Homo sapiens: one gene and its partners. The protein of the gene in region 1 interacts with the protein of each later gene in a pairwise test. Each region holds a gene or a part of one and is shown in the gene's direction. Other genes may lie near its edges.

The links. Proteins that work in one complex are often made in the same cells at the same time.
Region 2: the proteins of ZNF250 (region 1) and APOBEC3C interact in binary tests that used the Homo sapiens proteins (3 or more experiments, as listed by UniProt).
Region 3: the proteins of ZNF250 (region 1) and CARD10 interact in binary tests that used the Homo sapiens proteins (3 or more experiments, as listed by UniProt).

What each region holds. Positions count from the first base shown.
Region 1 is NC_000008.11:144,884,406-144,891,857, reverse strand, and holds part of ZNF250 (zinc finger protein 250), read left to right. Parts: intron 1-1,454; 5' UTR 1,455-1,508; coding exon 1,509-1,550; intron 1,551-1,783; coding exon of another isoform or gene 1,784-1,798; coding exon 1,799-1,925; intron 1,926-2,163; coding exon 2,164-2,277; intron 2,278-4,955; coding exon 4,956-5,018; intron 5,019-7,452. UniProt on the Homo sapiens protein: May be involved in transcriptional regulation.
Region 2 is NC_000022.11:39,009,957-39,017,689, forward strand, and holds the start of APOBEC3C (DNA dC->dU-editing enzyme APOBEC-3C), read left to right. Parts: upstream 1-4,300; 5' UTR 4,301-4,406; coding exon 4,407-4,423; intron 4,424-5,638; coding exon 5,639-5,795; intron 5,796-7,733.
Region 3 is NC_000022.11:37,515,983-37,523,685, reverse strand, and holds the start of CARD10 (caspase recruitment domain-containing protein 10), read left to right. Parts: upstream 1-4,270; 5' UTR 4,271-4,485; coding exon 4,486-4,720; intron 4,721-5,577; coding exon 5,578-5,715; intron 5,716-7,387; coding exon 7,388-7,703. UniProt on the Homo sapiens protein: Scaffold protein that plays an important role in mediating the activation of NF-kappa-B via BCL10 or EGFR.

The sequences.
Region 1 (7,452 bases):
TTTTGAGATGGAGTTTTGCTCTTGGTTGCCCAGGCTGGAGTGCAATGGCATGATCTCGGCTCATCGCATCCTCCACCTCCTGAGTTCAAGCAATTCTCTTGCCTCAGCCTCCTGAGTAGCTGGGACTACAGGCGTGCACCACCACACCCGGCTAATTTTGTGTTTTTAGTAGAGACGGGGTTTCCCCATGTTGGTCATGGCTGGTCTCGAACTCCCAACCTCGGGTGATCCGCCTGCCTCGGCCTCCCAAAGTGCTGGGATTACAGGCATAAGCCACTGCACCCGGCCTGATTTTTGTATTTTTAGTAGAGACGGGGTTTCACCATGTTGGCCAGGCTGGTCTCAAACTCCTGACCTCCGGTGATGTGCCTGCCTCACCCTCCCAAAGTGCTGAGATTACAGGTATGAGCCACCGCGCCCACCTATATCTGATGTTTTATAGACACTGAGATTATGATGTCCCTTGACTTCTGCCCCCAGCCCTGACACCTATTTTGTCACTCTTAAAGCACCCTGTTTGTTGTGGTGCCCATCTGAGCCAAGCATGTGAGGGGATTGGTTGCTTTGTTATACCACGTTTTTCTGGAGTGATCTACCACCTTTGGTCACCTGGTTGGTTTCTGTATCCCTGTCACAGTATCTTCTTTTTGATGCTCCAGAAGACTGCGAACCCTATCCTGTACAGGACCAAATGTGTCAGGAAAGCTCTTGCCCCGCTCCCCCTTTTTCCCAGCTGTTTGGGTGTGTGTCAGATACCTTTGCTTACCTTGTCCTGTTACGTTCCAGCACCAGCCCCACTACCCCAAGCATCCCCTTCTCACTTGATGACAAGTCTTCCTTCAGCTGCTCAGACCAGATCCCTAGGCCACTGTTGACTCAGTTTGTCCAGAACTGACCACTTCCATGCCTCCCCTTCAAATACCTGGTTGAACCTGGTGCCACATTGGGGCACTAGGGCTGCCTAAGGGTGGGGTGAGGGGAGTCTTATTGTCACCCTGGTGGCCAAGGCTTTCTTAATTGGGAGGGTGTTTGGGGAAGCAGCTTGGCCTGATGCCTGTATCCCCCACATGACTTGCGGACAGTCTGGTACTTGTGTGAGGGCCTCAGGTATAGAACACACAGAGCCTTGGTGAGCTGGTATCCTTGTGTATGGCAGGACCATGGGCCGGGACCAGGGTGCAGCAAGTGCCTTGCACCTGGTGTTCAGAGAGCCCAGTACTAGCTGGGCAGGCCCAGGAACTGTGTGTTCAGGGCCTGGACAGGCTCCTGAACCATAGGGTCAGAGTTCATGGGGGAGGCAAGGCAGACCAAGGCTGCAACAGTAGCAGCTCCTTGCACCTGACCTCAGTGTGCCCCTCAGTGACTCTGAATGAGGCCCAGGGATCCCCTGAGGGCCCCCTAGGAAGTTACGGTCTCAAGGCCATGCCCCTCACTTGCCCCCTCCTCTTCCTCAGCCCCATAGGCTCCTTCAATTTCCGTGATCCTCGGAGTCCCCAGGAGACCAGGTGATGGCAGCAGCCAGACTCCTGCCAGTGCCGGCAGGACCCCAGGTAAGCTGTCCCCAGTGCTTATGCAGTGCCCCCAGCCCGAGCCCTGTGGTTCCTTCCGTGCCCCGTAGAGCTCCTAAGAGCAGCCAGAGCGTCACCACATGCCCTGAACTCCGCGGCCCCTTCCCATCACCCACCTCAGCTCACAGAGCCCCCCACTGCCAACTGCTCATGTCACATGTCACATGCACCCACTCCCCATCACAGACATCAGGATTTGGTTTTACCTGCAGCAGCCCCTGTCGTTCCAGGCCAAGCTGACCTTCGAGGATGTGGCTGTGCTCCTCTCCCAGGATGAATGGGACCGCCTGTGCCCTGCTCAGAGGGGTCTCTACAGAAATGTGATGATGGAAACCTATGGGAATGTAGTCTCATTGGGTAAGCCACCTTAGCAGGCCTCGTCTATGTATCTGCGTATTGGACTGGGGTGGGGGCTTCTCAGGGTACGGGGCCTGGGACAGGCTGGTCCTGGAGGTTTGCTCTCATCACCTCTCTGGGTGCTCAGCTCCAGCAGAAGATCAGTCCTGTCCATTTTCATGTCCCCACAAGTGGCTTGGGCAGGGGGAGGGGGCTCTGTAAATGTTGTGTAAACAAAGACTTCCCTCCCCACGAGCAGGACTTCCAGGATCCAAGCCTGACATAATCTCCCAGCTGGAGCGAGGGGAAGATCCCTGGGTCCTGGACAGGAAGGGGGCTAAGAAGAGCCAGGGCCTGTGGAGTGACTACTCAGGTGAGTGAGGAGAGCTGGCCCCTCCCTCACTGAGGGCTAAACAGGTCCTGAGCAAAGCTGTGGACCTAGTTCATACTGTGCCGCTCACTGGAGTGGCTTCCACCTGGAGTAAAACCTTATCTGGCCTTATCTGGCAAAGGAGTCTATAGACTGGGGGTTGCTGAATCAGGTGGCAGCCCATGGCTGGAAGTGAGCATAGCAGTGAATTTCAACAAGCTGATGTGCAGAGCCATGTAGAGGAAGTTAGGGCATGGCTGCAGTGATTCTGTCCCTGACCAGAGGGACTGGTTAGCCAGATTTGGTCCTAATAGGACATTCAGGTTTTGAGAGTTACCTGATGATTTAGAAAATAACAAAGCATCCTAAATGTGGAAAGGAAGTGTCTCAACCTGACACTTAAGGTGAAGTGCTGAAAGCACACTGTTTCATCTCAGAACAAGACAAAGAAGCCCGCCATCCCCATGTCCATATAATGTTGTACTGGGTATCCCATGTACAAAATAAGGCAAAACCGGCCAGGCGTGGTGGCTCAAGCCTGTAATACCAGCACTTTGGGAGACTGAGGCGGGTGGATCACGAGGTCAGGAGATCAAGACCATCCTGGCTAACACGGTGAAACCCTGTCTCTACTAAAAATACAAAAAATTAGCCGGGCATGGTGGCATGCACCTGTAGTCCCAGCTACTCGGGAGGCTGAGGCCTGTAGTCCCAGCTACTCCCAGATTCATGGCGTGAACCCGGGAGGCAGAGGTTGCAGTGAGCTGAGATCGCTCCACTGCACTCCAGCCTGGGGGACAGAGCATGAGACTCTGTCTCAAAAAAATAAAAATAAAAATAAGGCAAAACCAAAGCTATAAGAATTAGAAAGAAAAAAGCATTGTTTGCAGTTTATGTGATTGTCAACCTGGAAAATGATTGATTAAAATTCACAAGGGAAATTACCAGTTTTGCTGGATACAATTTTTTTTTTTTTTTTTTTTTTTTTGAGACAGTCTTGCTCTGTCGCCCAGGCTGGAATGCAGTGGCATGAGTCTCGGGTCACTGCAAGCTCCGCCGTCTGGGTTCAAGCAATTCTTACGCCTCAGCTTCTCGAATAGCTGGGATTACAGGTCCATGCCCCTATACCCAGCTAATTTTTGTATTTTTAGTAGAGACAGGATTTCACCATGTTGGCCAGGCTAGTCTCGAACTCCTGACCTGAAGTGATCCACCTGCCTCAGCCTCCCAAAGTGCTGGTATTACAGGCATGAGCCACTGCACCTGGCCAGAAATGTTTTATTTATATTTGTCAGCAACCAGCAAAGGTGTAATATTTTAAAAGATAACATTTATAATAGCATCAGGAATATAAAGCATCCAAGAATTAATCTAACAAAAGATGTACAAGACCTTTAGATGGAGAAAATTATAAAAAGAAAGATGGTGCATAGATCCAACCCTGAAGTTCATGTTTGCGGTTGCTTAAGGCAAAGAACCTCTGACTTCAGTAAGGTGACGTCTGAGTCTTAGGAAAACCTCAGTCAGCCTGTCCTGCCATAATGTGCCCCACTTGGGGAGAGTAGGGACAGTTTGGGCAACACCTCCATTGGCTGATCAGCTTCAGCATTTCAGATGTGGTGGTTTTCCCCTTGAAAGCTCCTCCTTATTTCTAAAGTAGCTTTATGTGGATAGGGCACCAGGTATTACAGTCTACCTCTTACTGGCCTGCAAAATCAGATATCCTCAGAGGAACAAGGTACATGCCAGCCTTAGAGGAATTTAATTTTCCAGTGACTATACAAGAAGACACATCATCATGTCTTGGAAATCTTGCATAGAACTTCTGCTTACTGACTGCAGCTGTAGGAGACAAGAAAACACAGGAGGGCATTTTGCTGCCACTGCCAAACCAGTCCTGGGCTCCCTTGTGTCCAGCTATGTACTCGCCTGATGGAGAGCTTAAACTGCCTTTGAGCGCCCTTTGATTTGACACCACAGAGACTGTGAAATTCTCTGGGAGCATGGCTGGTTGGAGATGAGAAGTTTTTTCATGGAAGCACCTGGTCCCCTCACCTCTAACACAGGCCACAGAGGACGATGGGACTGAGTTTTAGATTACTGATGTGCATAGAAACAGAAGCCACCTGCCACAACCTGGATCACTGCCACTAGCATCAGAGCAAGCGAGGAGTAGATATGCCTTTGTCTTGTCCTGGCAGTTCCTCAGGATGGATAAGTGTGTGCACCTGCCCAGCCCTGACCCTGCTGTTTGTAACTCAGTAAATTACATGTTGTAATAGCAACGAAAGGATTTTCCACTCTTTTTTTTTTTTTTTTTTTTTTTTTTTTGAGAGACGGAGTTTCACTCTGTCCCCCAGGCTGGAGTGCAGTAGTGTGATCTCGGCTCACTGCAACTTCTTGTCTCCGGGGTTCAAGCGATTCTCCTGCCTCAGCTTCCCTAGTAGTGGGGACTACAGGCATGCACCACCATGTCCAGCTAATTTTTGTATTTTTTAGTAGAGACGGGGTTTCACTATATGTTGGCCAGGCTGGTCTCAAACTTCTGACCTCAAGTGATCCACTCACCTTGGCCTCCCAAAGTGCTGGGATTACAGACGTGAGCCACCATGCCCGGCCAGGATTTTCCACTCTTGAAGGGAGTATTTTGTTGTCACTTCAACTCGCTGTTTTTTTTCCAGACAACCTCAAATATGACCACACTACAGCCTGTACACAACAAGACAGTTTATCTTGTCCATGGGGTAAGTGTATGCCTGATCTTTTTAATTCAGTACAATCTCTGAAGGTGTTAACACTAATGTTTTACAAGAATGTAGAGGCGACTCGGTGCTATGAAGCGTGTTAAACAACTCACACAATTGCTACAAAACACCAGGGAGGGGCTTTTTGTGTTTTTAATTTTTAAAACATTTTTCCTTTTCTTGTGAGCCATAGTAGGCCTAGAGAGATTACTGGGTTTTTATAATTAAACATTTATTTCGGTGAAATCATTTTGTTTCCTTTTATTTGTTCCGTCATGCTTAAAACATACTTCCCTACTTTATACTTAACAACCAAAACCATTATTCTAAAAGCAAGTGACTCTTGGCTGAAGTCCAGCTTCTGCACAGTATGGATGCAAGGTGCAGGCAAGTTTGGCCTTCACAGCAACTTGATTCTGTCTCACAAGCAGTCATATGATGCTTTCGTGCCATGGATGATTGAGCGAGTAGTCTCTTATGCAGTTAGTTTAGTGTGTGTGTGTGTTTTCTTTTTTTCAGGCTGGAGTGCAGTGTAGAGACAGAGTCTTGCTGTGTTGCCCAAGCTGGTCTCAAACTCCTGGGCTCAAGCAATCCTCCTGCCTCAGCCTCCCAACATGCTGGGATTACCGGCATGAGCCACTGTGCCTGGCCTGTGTTTTTATTATTAAAGACATCTTGTCTATCTTGTTACCCTGGCATCAGGTCAGAAGCCGCCCATTCAGGAAACTTTTTTTTTTTTTTTTTAGACAGGCTCTCACTCTGTTGCCCAGGCTGGAGTGCAGTGGCATAATCACGGCTCACCAGTCTCAACCTCCTGGACTCAAGCAATCCTCCCACAACAGCTTCCCGAGAGTAGCTATAACCACAGGTGTACACCACCATGCCCAGCTAATTTTTGTAGAGACGGGGTTTCACCATGTTGCGCAAGCTGGTCTCAAACTCCTGGCCTCAAGTGATCCTCCCACCTTGCCCTCCCGAAGTGCTGGGATTACAGACATGAGCCACCACACCGGGTGAAACTTCAGACAATAGAAGTAATACTTTTCAGTGTAAATGAGTAACTATTTCTTTAGCCTATAGGCTTTTATTCCATGAAGATGAGGCTTATACATTAAAAAAAGAAAGAACTAAAACTTCTATCAGTTTAAAAAACACATAGCCAGCTTAGGCAAGATACTGAGACCCCACACTACAAAATAAAATTAAAAATTAGCCAGACATGATGGTGCATTCCTGTAATCCCAGCCACATGGAGGCTGAGACAGGAGGATTCCTTGAGCCCAGGAGGTTGAGGTTGCAGTAAGCCATGATCACACCACTGCACTCCAGCCTGGGTGATAGAGTGAGACCCTGTCTCAAAAAAAAACCCACATAGAGTGACTTTCTAAAATGAGATATGTTAAAAATTGTATTAAACTGGGCCGGGGGTGGTGGCTCATGCCTGTAATCTCAGCACTTTGGGAGGCCGAGGCAGATGGACCACCTGAGGTCAGGAGTTTGAAACCAAGCTGGCCAACATGGTGAAACCCCATCTCTACTAAAAATACAAAAAATTATCTGGGCATGGTGGCACATGCCTGTAATCCCAGCTACTTGGGAGGCTGAGGCAGGAGAATCGCTTGAACCTGGGAGGCAGAGGTTGCGGTGAGCTGAGATCGTGCCATTGCACTCCAGCCTGGGCAACAAGAACGAAACTCTGTCTCAAAAAAATTGTATTAAACTGAAGACAGTGAATTTAAATTTTTTTATTAAAAAAACTGTTAAATTCTCACTGTTTCAATTTGTCAATACACTTAATAAATTCCTCTGAATAGAATAAAAAGACGCAGAATTACCCAAAAAGAAAAGTAGGCACAAATTTCTGCATAGATTAGGAAAACCAAAGGGCCAATAAATAAGAAAACTGCTCAGCCTCATTATTCATCAGTAAAGTGGAAATCAAAACCACTGTGACATGATGTTACACCTTCAGAATGGAAAAAATGGAAAGATCTGACAATATAACATGTGGGTGAGGATGCAGGGCAGCTAATAGGGATGTAAATTCACATAGCCACTTTGGAAAAGTTTGGCATTATCCAATGAAATTGAAAACATGATCACATTCTGAGAGAATGGAGGTAAAAAAAATGAAAAAAAAAATCGAAAACATGAATTCCTATGTTCACCACTTCCCACTCTTGCATATGTATACAGCAAGGACATTTGTGTGTAAGCACCAGGAAACATAGGAGAATCTTCACAGAAGCATGCTTCATGATTTAAAAAAACATTTGAAAAGAATTCAGGACCGGGCGCCGTGGCTCCTGCCTGTAATCCCAGCACTTTGGGAGGCCGAGGTGGGTAGATCACGAAGTCAGGAGTTTGAGGCCATCCTGGCCAACATGGTGAAACCCTGTCTCTACTGAAGATACAAAAAAATTAGCCAGCCATG
Region 2 (7,733 bases), on another chromosome or scaffold:
ATTACATGGTGGCATGCACCACCACACCTGGCTAATTTTGTATTCTTTTTTAGTAGAGACGGGGTTTCTCCATGTTGGTCAGGATGGTCTCTAACTCCTGACCTTAGGAGATCCCCTTGCCTCAGCCTCCCAAAGTGCTGGGATTACAGGCGTGAGCCACCACACATGGCTTATTTTTTAAATTTTTTCAGATGGAGTCTCACTCTGTGGCCCAGGCTGGAGTACAGTGGTGAGATCTCCGCTCACTGCAACGTCCACTTCCCAGGTTCCAGCTATTCTCCTGCTTCAGCCTTCCAGGTAGGTGGGACTACAGGTGCATGCCACCATGCCTGGCTAATTTTGTAATTTTTTTTTTTTTTAGTCATGACGGGGTTTCACCATGTTGGTCAGGCTGGTCTTGATCTCCTGACCTCAGGTGATCTGCCCGCCTCAGCCTCCCAAAGTGCTGGTATTATAGGTATGAGCCACGGCAATCAGCCATATATATACCTTTTGCAAATAAAATTACACAGGTGGAAAACGTTTTTCTTTTTCTTTTTTTTTTGAGACAGGGTCTCACTCTGTCGCCCAGGCTGGTGTGCGGTGATGCAATCATGGCTCAAGTGATCCTCCCCCATCAACCTCCCTAGTAGCTGGAATTACAGGTGCACACCACATCTGGCTAATTTTGTTTTTGTTTTTGTTTTTGTAGACACGGGGTTTCACCATGTTGCCCAGGCTGATCTCGAACTCCTGACCTCAAGTCATCCGTCCGCCTCGGCCTCCCACAGTGCTGGGATTACTGGTGTGAACCACCACACCCGGCCCGAAAAGGTTTTCAAAATAATAAAATGGGCTGGGCAAGTGGCTCATGCCTGCAATTAGAGGCCTGGAGACATTAAGTAAACCACCCAAGGTCACACAGTAAGGAAGGGGCAGAACTCAGAGTCTCCTGGCTGCAAAGCTGGTGTCCCTTCCCCACTGTGCCTTAACTGCCGCCTTACAGCTGGGTTGGAGGATGCCTCCCTGGTCTAGGGTCATTATTACATTTTCTTCTAAGAAGTGTGTTTCTGATCAACGGAACTGATTATTTTCCATCTATGGTCTTACCCTTTGCCCCCATCTCTTTCTTATGGCAACAGAAAATTTCACCTTCAAGAGGAGCGCCTCGGCCCGGCCGAAGTACCGTCTGGGAAGTGAGGAGCGCCTCGGCCCGGCCGAAGTACCGTCTGGGAAGTGAGGAGCACCTCTGGACGGCCACGGAGCAACCCTCCAGGTGTGAAGTGGCAGCCCTGTGTGTGATCTTTCTGCCCTCCCCGAGTTTTCATTTTCGATAGTAAAATTTACTTGTAAACTAAAAGATTTATATTGGGGAAGATGAAAGGAAGGAAGGAAGGAAACTTCACTTTCCAAAAACAACCACTGGGAGTCCGCTTTGTGCAGCGATAGGTAAGCTTCTGTGCAGGAACGGGCGCTGCTGCACCCCCTACCACCCACGCAGCCTCCTCCCTATCTGCCTTCAGGTGGTAGCCAGAGGAGTTCAGAGCCTCTACAGAGAGCACAACTTCTCCAGCTGGAACTGAAGGGGGCCTGCCCCTCCACACCGGCGGGTATTTCTCGAAAGGTGGAGATGAGAGACTGAGAAAAGAAATAAGACACAGAGACAAAGTATACAGGAAGAAAAGTGGGCCCAGGGGACCGGCGCTCAGCATATGGAGGACCCGCATGGGCACTGGTCTCTGAGTTCCCTCAGTATTTATTGATCACTATCTCTACCATCTCAGCGAGGGGGATGTGGCAGGACTATAGGGTAATGGTGAGGAGAGGGTCAGCAGGAAAACATGAGAGCAAAGGACTTTGTGTCATAAATAAGTTTAAGGAAAGGTGCCGTGCCTGGATGTGCACGTAGGCCAGATTTATGTTTGACTTTATACAAACATCTCAGTGCAGTAAAGAGCAGTATTGCCGCCAGCATGTCTCACCTCCAGCCATAAGGCGGTCTTCTCCTATGTCAGTAAATAGAATGTATGATCGGGTTTTACACCAAGACATTCCATTCCCAGGGATGAGCAGGAGACAGATGCCTTCCTCCTATCTCAACTGCAAAGAGGCTTTCCTCCTTCACCAATCCTCCTCAGCACAGACCCTTTACGGGTGTCGGGCTGGGGGACGGTCAGGTCTTTCCCTTCCCATGAGGCCATATCTCAGGCTGTCTCAGTGGGGGGAAACCTGGACAATACCCAGGCTTTCTTGGGCAGAGGTCCCTGCGGCCTTCCGCAGTGCACTGTGTCTCTGGGTACTCGAGACTGGAGAATGGCGATGACTTTTACCAAGCTTATTGCCTGCAAACACATTTTTACCAAGGCACATCCTGCACAGCCCTAAATCCATTAAACCTTGAGTCAATATAGCACATGTTTCTGCGAGCACAGGGTTGGGGCTAGGGTTACAGATTCACAGCATCTCAAGGCAGAAGAGTTTTTCTTAGTACAGATCACAATGGAGTTTCTTATGTCTTCCTCTTTCTACATAGACACAATAACAGTCTCATCTCTCTTTCTTTCCCCCACAAGAACAAACTCCCCTTAAAGGAATCTATTTAGGAAGATTATTTCAAGGATACAATGTACATTCATTCCTCCAAAATATGCTTAGATGAACTTAAATAATCAGAAAGTTGTGTGTGTATGTGTTTCACATTTTCTTGGTCCACACGGAACCCCTTGAGAGGTCCCTGTGGGCCGTGAGCCTGTTTGTAGACACTTGCTTCCACCGCTTGATGTCGCAGACATCGCAGTCCCTGATGTAGGGTCTGGCCCTATGGGGCTTAGTGGGTGTTCTCCCCGTGTGTGGAGATGAGAAATCGTAAAAAGTAAAGACACAAGACAAAGAGATAAAGCGAAAACAGCTGGGCCCGGGGGACCACTACCATCAAGACACGGAGATGGGTAGTGGCCCCAAATGGTTGCGTGCACTGTTATTTATTGCATACAAGACAAGGGGGGCAGGGTAAGGAGGGTGAGTCGTCCAAGTGATTGATAAGGTCGAGCAAGTCACGTGATCATAGGACAGGGGGCCCTTCCCTTATAGGTAGCCGAAGCAGAGAGGGAAGGCAGTATACGTCAGCGTTTTCTTCTATGCACCTATCAGAAAGATCAAAGACTTTAAGACTTTCACTATTTCTTCTACCGCTATCTTCTGAGAACTTCAAAGAGGGACCAGGAGTACAGGAGGAAAGTGGACAAGGAGCGTGACCATTGAAGCACAGCATCACAGGGAGGGGTTTAGGCCTCCGGATGGCTGCAGGCAGGCCTGGATACTATCCAGCCTCCCACAAGAAGCTGGTGGAGCTGAGCGTTCCCTGACTCCTCCAAGAAAAGGGAGACTCCCTTTCGTGGTCCGCTAAGTAACGATGCCTTCCTAGGCACTGGCGTTACCGCCTGACCAAGGAGCCCTCCAGTAGCCCTTATGCGGGTGTGACAGAGGGCTCACCTCTTGCATTCTCGGTCACTTCTCACAACAGCCCTTCAGCACCTGACCCTATACCCACCGGTTATTTCTTGGTTATATTAGTAATACAATAAAGAGTAATATTAAAAGCTAATGATTAATAATATCTACACTAATGATTGATAATGTCCATGATCATCTCTGTATCTAATTTGTATTATAACTATTCTTATTGTAAGTATATTCTTTATTATACTGAAACAGTTTGTGCCTTCAGTCTCTTGCCTCAGCACCTAGGTAATCCTCCGCCCACATCTCTGAGGGGCTGAACTGCCCCCCACCTTCTGGAAGCTGGGAGGTTGGAAGAGGGGATGCGTGCGATGGACTCAGCACACAGCTGGGAACTCGAGGCACACCTAAGCCTTCGCTTGTGCTGTGCGGAGTCCACACTTCCTTCCCCACTGGGGTCTCAAAACCTCCCCTCACTCAACAGGGTGGTGCTGCTCAAAGCTCTGGGCACACATTAGGGCTGGGGAGGGGGTGGTGGAGAGGGGGCTCCAGCCTGCCCAACCACCAGGCAACGGGGCACCTGCCCCTCTCTCAGCTGGGTCTGGACCCGCGTCCCAGGCTCAGGCTGCAATGCCTTTCTCTTTCTCTTTCTCTTCTTTTTGCAGTTCCGTTGGGTCCTGCCCAGGACAGATAAAGACAGAGCAGCCTGTCTTTATCGGAGGTTCCTCTGCCAGTAGGAGGGGCCCGGAGAAAACCAGAAAGAGGGCCAGAGCCAGAGAAACATGAAGCACCCCGGGGCCTCCCACACCAGTGCCTGAGCAGGAATGGGGAGGGGCCATGATTCACAAGGCCCTGGGAGGTCACTTTAAAGAGGGCTGCTCAACTGCAAGGACGCTGTAAGCAGGAAGAGAAGCCACAGCGCTTCAGAAAAGAGTGGGACAGGGACAAGCATATCTAAGAGGCTGAACATGAATCCACAGATCAGGTACCTCTGCACGCTTTGTCCGCCAGGCCCCTCCTGCCACTTCCTGCCAGGCGGTCCTGCTGGGCCTCAGCCCTGGCCTCCCCCTGCCCCAGCCCCACCTCTGGGCTCCCTCCCCCCTGGTTCCCCCGCTGCCCCCACTCCCAGCCAAGCTCCTTGCCCTGCTGTGTGGTCCCACGACTGCTGCTTCTGAATGGGCCACCTTCCCCACTTGCCCCAGCCCAGTCCGCCTGCTGAGACTCTCCCCCGAAAATCATGCCCGGGCTGGTGCTTCCCGCCCTGGGAGGGTGCTTCCTCTGTGTGCTTCCCACTATTCCTGGGAGCTCTGGAACTGGGAGAATTGAACCAAAGGATGATTTGAGCAATCAGGCATTTTGTTCTCAGCGCTTTGGTGCAATTTCTGTAAGATTTACTTTGTTTCAATACAAAGTCTTAGGAGAGGGTGTGGGGGAGGGAATGGTCTCTGTACCAGAAAATAAGTCACTTCTTCCAAAGATGCCTCCACTGTGAGCAGAGTAGGATGCACACGACCCCAGACACAGGCTCCTCCTCTGTGAGCACCGTTCACCTTTCAGAATGACACCTGCAACATGGAGTGTAGGAAAAAATATGATGATCAGGAGAAATGCTCTTATTTTAGGCCAGGCACGGTGGCTTATGCCTGTAATCCTAGCACTTTGGGAGGCTGAGGCGGGCGGGTCACTTGTGGTCAGGAGTTTGAGACCAGCCTGACTAACATGGTGAAACCTCGTCTCTACTGAAAATACAGAAAATTAGCCAGGGGTGCTGGCGGGCGTCTGTAATCCCAGCTACTTGGGAGGCTGAGGCAGGAGAATCCCTTGAACCCGAGGGGTGGAGGTTGCAGTGAGCTGAGATTGCAAACTCCAGCCTGGGGGACAGAGCGAGATGCCGTCTTTAAAAAAAAAAAAAAAAAAGTAGCAGAAAAACTGGGAGGTTGAGGGTGTTCCATTGGTAGCCCCAGAGCTGGGGTTCCAGCTAGGAGAGGTCACCCCGGCCCTGCTGCCCCTGCCAGCGTCCCCTCCTCTTTCTCTCTCCCCGTCTTCCTGCCTGGGAAAGCAGCAGACATTCTCAGGGCTGTGGAGGGATGGGGGAGGCCCAGAGCCCAGGGACGTCCAGGCAGCTGTGTTCAGTGGGCATCAGCCCTGAGGACTCCGGTGCGGGGGTCTCTGCATTGGGGTTTCTCTCTTGTGCCTTCAGAAACCCGATGAAGGCAATGTATCCAGGCACATTCTACTTCCAATTTAAAAACCTATGGGAAGCCAACGATCGGAACGAAACTTGGCTGTGCTTCACCGTGGAAGGTATAAAGCGCCGCTCAGTTGTCTCCTGGAAGACGGGCGTCTTCCGAAACCAGGTAGCACCAAAGTCCTAGTTACACCCTAAATAGGAGCTAAGCAGCTGGGAATGCAGAAAACGCAACAATAAGTGATGTGCCCGGCGTGGGCTCTCCTGTGTGCACTTTCCTGCCACATTTCTATTTTTTTTTTTTTTTTTTTGAGATGGAGTCTCGCTCTGTCACCCAGGCTGGAATGCAGTGGTCTGATTTCAGCTCACGGCAACCTCTGCTTTCCAGGTTCACGCGATTCTCCTGCCTCAGTCTCCCGAGTAGCTGGGATTACAGGCACCTGCCACCATGCCCAGCCAATTCTTTTGTATTTTTAGTAGAAACAGGATTTTGCCATGTTGGCCAGGCTGGTTTCGAACTCCTGACCTCAAGTGATCCACCAGCCTTGGCCTCCCAAAGTGCTAGGATTACATGCGTGAGACACCATGCCCCTGGCCTCCTCCCCACATTATTTATTTATTTATTTATTTATTTTGAGACGGAGTCTTGCTCTATCGCCCAGGCTGGAGTGCAGTGGCACAATCTCAGCTCACTGCAAGCTCCGCCTCCCGGGTTCACGCCATTCTCCTGCCTCAGCCTCCCAAGTAGCTGGGACTACAGGCGCCCACCACCATGCCCAGCTAATTTTTTCTTTTTTTCTTTTTTTTTTTTTTTTTAGTAGAGACGGGGTTTCATGGTGTTAGCCAAGATGGTCTCGATCTCCTGACCTCATGATCCGCCCGCCTTGGCCTCCCAAAGTGCTGGGATTACAGGCATGAGCCACTGTGCCCGGCCTCCCCACATTTTTTAAGTCCATGGCCCAGATCTTCCTCCCTGACTCTCCTGTGATCAGATCGTGGAGGGGGTTTGCTTCCTCCCAAAAGGCCTTGTTTAGCGCCCAGCACCCTCACTCTTGACTTTGTTTCCCAAAATCTTGTTATGGAGCTGTGCGTCCGGCAGTCCTCGGGAATCAGCAGCTGTGGGAAGCGGGGGGTGTTGTGTCCAGCGCTGTGTCTGGGCCAGTGACTGCGGGCTGGTGGGGCCGCCCCCGCCACTGCCCTGATTCCTCAGCAGAAGGCAGGCAGGGAACAAAGCTGACCCCAGAGAGCCAGGCCATAGCAGGGGCTGAGGATGCCTGGTGAATGGATGCCTGGGAGAAAAGATGGCAGAATTCACACATGAGTCTATGAGACAGGGAAAGAATCAATAAAATAAAGAAGGAAGGGGCCGGGCACGGCGCGGTGGCTCATGCCTGTAATCCCAGCACTTTGGGAGGCTGAGGCAGGCGGATCATGAGGTTGGGAGTTCGAGACCAGCCTGGCTAACATGATGAAACCCAGTCTCTACTAAAAATACAAAGATTAGCCAGGTGTGGGGGTGCATGCCTGTAGTCCCAGCTACTCAGGAGGCTGAGGCAGGAGAATTGCTTGAACCTGGGAGGCAGAGGTTGCAGTGAGCCGAGATTGTGCCACTGCACTCCAGCCTTGGCGACAGAGCAAGACTCCATCTTTGAAAAAAATAAAAATAAAAGAATAAAGAGAGAAGGAGAAGGATAGAAGAAGGGAAACTCAATGAATAAAACACCCTGGGGCCTACTATGTAGCCAGAAAAATGAAAAGTAAAGAAATAAAATAAGGCTGTGCATGTGGTTTATGCTCATAGTCCCAGAGCTTTGGGAGGGTGAGGCAGGAGGATCGCTTGAGCCCAAGAGTTCAAGATCAGCCTGGGCAACATGGTGAAACCCCGTCTCTAAAAAAATTATTTAAAAAATTAGGCAGGTGTGGCGGCATGCACCTGCATCCCAGCTTATCAGGAGGCTGAGGTGGGAAGATTCCTTGAGCCTGGGAGGTCAAGGCTGCAGTCAGCCCAGATCCCACCACTGCACCCCCTAACCTGTGCACCAGAGAGAGACCCTGTCTCAAAAATGAGTAAATAAGGAAACGGCCCGGGGCTCCAGGCCCGCCCTCT
Region 3 (7,703 bases), on another chromosome or scaffold:
CTGACAAAGAGGAACGGAAGGGTTGCTTGGGCCAGGGGCATCCTTGAAGGAATGAACAAAAAGGTGGATCCCTGCTTCTGTGGCCTTTGTGGCTGATTTGTGGAAGACAATGATAGCGGCGTATTACTACCAAGAAAAGTAAAGGCCAAAGTCCTCATAATGATCTTCAAGGCCTTTGCTCTGTCTGCCCCCCTTCCAATCCTCCTTCAACCTCCTCTCCTCCCCTGCTCCACTCCTCATCCTCACCACTCTTGGAACATTCCAGCTCACTCCTGCTAGCCAAGGACGGCTCTGTTCTTGGGATGGAAGTAGGCAACAAACAGGTTGCTGACATTTTCCTGGTGCAGCAAAGCAAGCACCAGGAAAATGTCAGATAGAGAGGAAATAGCTCTCGGGGCTCAGAAAGTGATACCTGCCAAATAAGGCGCTTTGATAGGCTGAATAAAGACGCAACCTCAAGGTCTCTCTGCCAACCTTTCCCCCATCCTCTCTGTCAATCCTCTGTCTCTCCCAAAGCACAGGAGGAGGCTGTTCTCCGAAGTTCCCTTATCTGCTAGAAACTGGACCCCAAAGAGGAACACGATTGCTTTCGATCCCTTCCCTGAAATTTCATTAACTGGAGATTAAAATTCATATCACAGAGGAAGAGAAAATTAAACACCACATCTAGAGTCCAGACAAACTTTGTCCCAAATGAGTGTTTCTTCTTCGGTCCCACTCAATTTCCAAAGAAAATCATCTGTAAGATAATGTCTGCCTCCCAGGCCCATTAATGCCTCCTAACAGTCATTCACTCCTACAGCCCCGTCTCCCCTTCCCCAGCGAAGAAGCGGATATAAACATCTGGACCTCAATGGATAACTGGGTAATCATTCTCCTATGATTCCCCTGTGCTAGGCATGTTAAATACATTTTTTATGCTTTTTTTCTTCTATTTATCTGCCTATTGTCAGTGCATTTCCGGCAAACCTCTAGAGGGAGAAGGAGAAGCTGTCCTTTGGCCCCTACGTAGCACAGAATTGCTTGGATGGGGTGTATGGAACTCCCTGCTGGAGGGTGCTCCTGAATCAAGGGAGGGGGAATTTGATCTGAGACCTGAAAAGCTAGAAGGAACCCTCCGTACCAGGAGTGGAGGGATGAGCAGTCCCAGCAGAGGCAACAGGGTGGACAAGGGCCTTGATGTGGAAGAAGCTGACAGGTTCCAAGAACAGAATGAGACTAGTGAGCGAGTGGGGCAGTGGGAAGTGGGAGGCGGGGGAGCCAGCAGGGTCTGGGGGCAGTTTGCATTTTATTCCAGTTTGGTGGAAACCATTAAGAGGTTTTAAGCCAGAGAAAAACCTGTTATGTTTTTAAAACCATCATTCTTTCCAGCTTAGGCAACGTGGCAAGACCCCTCTCTACCAAGGGTAAAAAAAGTAGCCGGGCATGGTGGTGCATATGTGCAGTCCCAGCTATGTGGGAGGCTGAGGCAGAAGGATTGCTTGAGCCCAGGAGTTCAAGGCTGCAGTGAGCTATGATTGGGCCGCTGCACCCTAGGCTGGGTGACAGAGCCAGACCTTGTCTAAGAAAAACCTCCCAAACCAAACAAACATCATTAAGGCTGCAGAGTGGAGAACATACCATAGCCCATAGCACTGTGGGTGGGAGTTTGTGGGGGCATGTGTGGCTTGGACCAGTGGGGCTACAGGCAGTAGGACGCAGACTGGTTTGAAACATGGAGGCATGCCTTTTGATGAGTTGGGAAGAGGACTGACATTCCTGTACCCACTTCACATATGGAGAGACTGCAACTCAGAGGCAGTCCCTGCACATGGGGGACTATTGTCCACTTTTCAGATGTAGAAGTTGAGAGGGGGAGGAATTTGTCCGAGTAGATGCAGCTAAGGCTGAATGTTGGTCTCCAGGGCACCCTCCACTCCTGGACTGTCTGCCTTTGTAGGTGTGGCTGGGACTACTCACCGCCTGCCTTTTGCAGACAGGGAAATGGAGACTCAAAGAAGAACAATACTCATAGCGGTGAGCCCGCGATAGAACCCAGGGCCCCTGGTACAAAGTCTAGATTCTCGGTGTCCCTGCTGTAGTCCCTGCCCGCCTTCCTGGCATAGCTATAGAGAGAAGATGAATGTAGCAGAACTCACAAGAGGACAATAATGAACATGGTACCTAATCACACGCTTGCACACTCGGTGCTATGGACGCCCGGGGACAGGGGAAAGATGAGGAGGCTCAGATGTTTGTGGGGAAGTGGGTACGCCCCTGTCTGCCTCCTGCCTGGCTTGATGCCCACAGTGGGTGGGTGTGTATGTGTGCATGTGTATGTGATGGTGCGTGTGCATGCCTGTATAATTGTACATGTGAATGTGGGAGTGTGGTACCCAAAGGAACTCTGTCGCTTCCCCTGGAATGCTGGGCACCAGGGGCACTCGGTGTACCCAGCTACCTGCCTGTTCAGACCCAGTGTGCCCTCACTTCTCTGTCCACTTATCTGCAGAGACCTCTTGGCTTCTGTGCCTTATCTTTAGGCCCTGCTTAGCTTCTCGATGAAAAAATAATTAACCATAGCCTCATTTTCCAAGGCGTCCATCCCGCTCTGCTGGCCAAGTTAAAAATATTCACGAGGAGTAGGGCTGCTGGTGGGAGGAGCTGCCGCTCTGCGTGGGAGGGCAACCAAGGCCACAGAGAGGGGAAGGACGTATTGAAAGGGAGGTCTGGTGTGTGCCTGGACTCGGGGCTTGGAGAGGACAGAGGCCAGGGGCTGGGCTCCGGCCTATTCCCATTGTGGCCTCGCTGTGTGAATTTGGGCAAGTTCCTTGCCCTCTCTGAGCTCTGCTTCCTCCTTTGTTAATTGAGGAATTTGCACTAGAATTCAGTTCTCCCAAAGCATTTCTTCTGCATGTAAACAGGTGACACCCAAAACAAAAACAAATGTACAACAAATGCAAACCAAAAAAAGGCTGTGGTTAATTAAGTTTGGAAAAGGACACCAGGATATATAAAGTTAAATCTGTTTCTTTACTGCTGGGGCTTTTTTTTTTTTTTTTTTTTTTTTTGAGGGGGAGTCTCATTCTGTTGCCCGGGCTGCTGGAGTGCAGTGGCACGATATCACTGCAACCTCCGCCTCCTGGGTTCAAGCGATTCTCGTGCCTCAGCCTCCCGAGTAGCTGGGATTACAGACGCGCACTACCACGTCTAGCTAATTTTTATATTTTTAGTAGAGATGGGGTTTCGCCATATTGGTCAGGCTGGTCTCGAACTCCTGACCTCAGGTGATCCACTCGCCTCGGTCTCCCAAAGTGTCGGGATTCCAGGCATGAGCCACCGCCCCCGGCCTTAATTTAAGCAGGGCTTTTCAGAGCCTTTATTGATTGAAACCTTAATTCTTTGGATAAGTAATACATATGTCCACGGCATCTAATTCAGAAGTTGTGGAAGGCGATTAGGGAGCTCACACCTCTTTCCTGTACCGGTTGTGCCTCCTCTGTTCCTCCCTGGCAGCAGGTACCTGGCAGCTTCTAATGCATAGCGAGACTGTATCGCATGCACCAGCAGATACCGTGTAGACTCGGCCAGTATCATGGTAAGACACCACCGGCCTCCCAGGCAGGAGCGGGAGTATGGATGGCTAGTCACAGCCCGCCCCCAGCATCTCTGGGACCAACACCTGGAGGAATACCCTTTGAGAATTGTGGGGTCCCTGGTCCTCAAGTGCCACGGGAGTTTGCGTAAGAGGGGAGTTGGCAGTGCTGCCCTGCAGGTTCAGACCCCCATCTTGCAGAAAGCCCCCATGACCTCTGCCCATTGCTGTCCCCCGCGGGGCTGTCCTGCGCTCCAGGGAAGCTCCCGCGCCCGCAGTGCATGTGGGGACCCGAGAAGGGCAAGCCCAGCTTGAGTGCCCGCGGGCTGCGCCGGGCGTGAGCGGCTAGCCCCGCACGGGCGGGCGCGCTGTGGGCGTGGGGAGGCGATGCGCGTGGCCCGGGGAAGGTGTGTCGCGGCGCGCGGGGGGTGTGAGCGCGCCTGCCCGCCCCCGCCCCGCCCAGAGGCCGGGCAGGTGTGGGCGGGCGGCCAGGACCCCGCCGAGCCGGGCTGGAGAGCCGGCGGGAAACAGGAAGCAGGGGGAGGCGCAGCCGGACGGCCGGGAGGGAGGGCGTGCAGACGGACGCGCGGGGTGGCCGGGGGCCGGACGCACGACCCGGGGCGGGCGGCAATGTGGGGAGGCCCGGGCAGCCCAGGAGGCTGCGGGGACGGGGGCGGAGCCGGGGGCGCCACGGGCACCGCCCCCCTGCGCCGGCGGAGCCGCCGCCCGAGTGCGGACCCGGGAGCCCGAGGCGACTGTAGCGTGCGGGGTGAGTCGCGGGGAGCTCGGGGCGCGCCCCCGACGGCGGGTCTGCGGACGACGCCCCGGGGGTGCTTGGCCGCACATCTAGCCCTAGGGAGCCCTGGTCGACCCCCGTGCGCCTCTTGCCCGCAGACCCTGAGGACACGGCCATGCCGGGCCGGGCGGAGGCGGGGGAGGCCGAGGAGGAGGCCGGGGCCGGCTCGGGGTCTGAGGCGGAGGAGGACGCGCTGTGGGAGCGAATCGAGGGCGTCCGGCATCGGCTGGCTCGCGCCCTGAACCCGGCCAAGCTCACGCCGTATCTGCGCCAGTGCCGGGTCATCGACGAGCAGGACGAGGAGGAGGTGCTGAGCACCTACCGCTTCCCGTGCCGCGTCAACCGCACCGGTGAGCCGCGGGTCCCGAGTGGGCCACGACCTGGGCCGGCCGTGCCCTGGGGCGCAGCGCCCACAGCCGTGTAGCGCGAAGCTAGGGCTCTGCTGCCCTGGGGCTCGGTCTCCGCATCAGTAGAGTGGGCCGGCTGGGTATGCCCACCAGCCTGCCTCCTCCCCACCCACCACTGCGCCTTGGCGGTCCGCGTTGCCCACACCGGGGTCAGAGTTTTGTCTCTTGGGGTTCTCTCCCACTTCCTGGGTCCACATTAGAGCAGAAGGTTGGATGTGGCTGCCAGGGCCGGCTGGGCCTGGGACCTCCCGGTCACAGCCGGTGGACTTGGCACCTTTCCTGCGCTCTTTGATCTCCGAGTTCTGTCTGTCCCCTCCTCTGTGCACCATACACTCCTGGGGGAGTCCTTTTTCAAGTGTCAAGATCCGTCTCAGCTTTACGTGGGTCCCCACTCCCACAGGGTGTGCCTTTGAACCAGAACTCAAAAAGGCATGATGGAATGGTCTTTAATGGTGGAATTTCAGGCATGGCCAATGGGAGAAGTATTTTCTTTGCTTCTGGGGATAGAGGGGGCTTCTCTGTGCCATTGAAAAGGCAGGCTGCATTTGCGGGCCGGCATCTGTGTCTGTGGGGGGTGTTGGGGAGCTCTGGGAGCCCAGGAGTCATGAGGGAATGTGCTCCCCTGGCTGTGGCAGAATGGCTCTCTTCTCTTCCCTGATGTGTTGGGACAGGCCCCTGTGTGTGTCACTGGCTCAAAAATCTGGGGAACGTGGGCCTGGAGCATGGTGGGGGCAGAAGCAACCAGGCACCTGGGGAGGCCTTCCCCTAGACCCTGGGTACATCCCCCCACTACTCTGTAGGGCGCCTGATGGACATCTTGCGCTGCCGTGGCAAGAGGGGCTATGAGGCCTTCCTGGAAGCCCTGGAGTTCTACTACCCCGAACACTTCACGCTGCTCACGGGCCAGGAACCCGCCCAGCGCTGCTCCATGATCCTCGGTGAGTGGATCTGCGGTGGATGCTGGCACCTCGGACTCCAGTGCACAGGCTCCTTTCCCCATCCCTGTTAGGGAGGCGCTCCCACTATGCCTGTTGAACAGTAAGGGAAACTGAGGCATGGAGAGGCTGAAGGGGCTTGCCCAGGGCCCCACGGTAGGCTGAGGGTGGGGCTGGGTGCTAGTGCCGTTATTCCAAGTTCAGAGCCACATGCTTAAGATGGCTCTTTCTTCGTGATACTGTTTTCAGACATATGTCTGACATACACAGATGTATAGTTTTTTATGTAAAAAAATACAGAGGCTCCAGGTGACTTTGAATTTTTTTTTTTTTGAGACAGTGTCTTGCTCTGTCACCAGGCTGGAGTGCAGTGGCGCGATCTCAGCTCACTGCAACCTCCGCCTCCCAGGTTCAAGCGATTCTCCTGCCTCAGCCTCCCGAGTAGCTGGGATTACAGGCATGGGCCACCACGCCCTGCTAATTTTTGTATTTTTATTTTTAATAGAGATGGGGTTTCATCATGTTGGCCAGGATGGTCTTGATTTCCTGACCTTGTGATCCGCCTGCCTCGGCCTCCCAGAGTGCTGGGATTACAGGCGTGAGCCACTGCGCCTAGCTGAATTTTTTTATATAAAAAACACAAACACATACACACACGCACACACGCCTACGTGTGTATTTTGCTTTTTCTTAGAACAACTGATTTTAGTGATTCTTTCACCTCTGTTACATACACTTGTTTTAAGTGACTGCATACTGTTCATTAGTGAAGTTAGGACATAATTCATTTAACCCATTTCCAGTTGATGGATACCTAGGTTTCCAGTTTTGTATTATTACAACGATACGGGAACATCCTTGTATGTGCGTCTTTGTGCAAATGTGTCTCAGGCGAAGAGGTTCTGAGAAGAATTTCTCAAAGAGTCTGTGTATTTTAACTGTTAAATCAACATACCTCCTACCAGGAATGTGTAAGGGCCCATTTGAATCCTGGGGATCATGTTTAAACGTTTTTACCATTCTGATATGTAAAAAATAATGTTATTGTTTTAAGTTTATATTTCATTGAGTGATACAGTTCACAGGTTACTAGTTATTAAACCTTGGGTAAATAACTGCTCTGTGCTTCAGTTTTTCTGTCTTTAAGATGGGTACAATAATAGTACCTACCTTACAGTGTTGTCATAAAGATTAAGATATATCTAGCACAAAGAATGAAGTTAACAAATATTAGTAGCTACTGTAATTATTGTTGATAGGTTGGTGCATATTTTCCTGTATTTATTAACTATTTTTATTTTGGGACTTGCCTATTGATAGTTTTTGTCCATATTTTTATTTGGTTGTTGATCTTATTGATTTGTAGGAGCTCTTTATATATTACGGCTCTGAGTTCTTGTTATATTTTCTCCCACTCTGTTGCTTATTAACTTTGTTACATCTTTCATTTTTCAAAGGTTTAAACATTTTTATATGGATTTGTCCATCTTTTTTCTCTTATAACTCCTGGATTTTGTGTGTTGTTTAGGAAGACCTCCCCTGCTCCCAATTCTACAAATATATTCCAGAATTTCCCTCTAGTGTTTTTATGGTTTGAGTTTTTTGACACAGTATGTTATCTCCTGGATTTTACTTGCCTGAGCTGCCTATTCTGTCCCCTGTTCTGTCCTGGCAGATGAGGAGGGGCCTGAGGGCCTGACCCAATTCTTGATGACAGAGGTGCGACGGCTGCGGGAAGCTCGCAAGAGCCAGCTGCAGCGGGAGCAGCAACTGCAGGCCCGGGGCCGGGTGCTCGAGGAGGAGCGGGCAGGGCTGGAGCAGCGGCTGCGGGACCAGCAGCAGGCTCAGGAGCGCTGTCAACGGCTGCGGGAGGACTGGGAGGCGGGCAGCCTGGAGCTGCTGCGGCTCAAGGATGAGAACTACATGATCGCCATGCGCCTGGCACAGCTCAGTGAGGAGAAGAACTCGGCTGTACTTCGCAGCCGTGACCT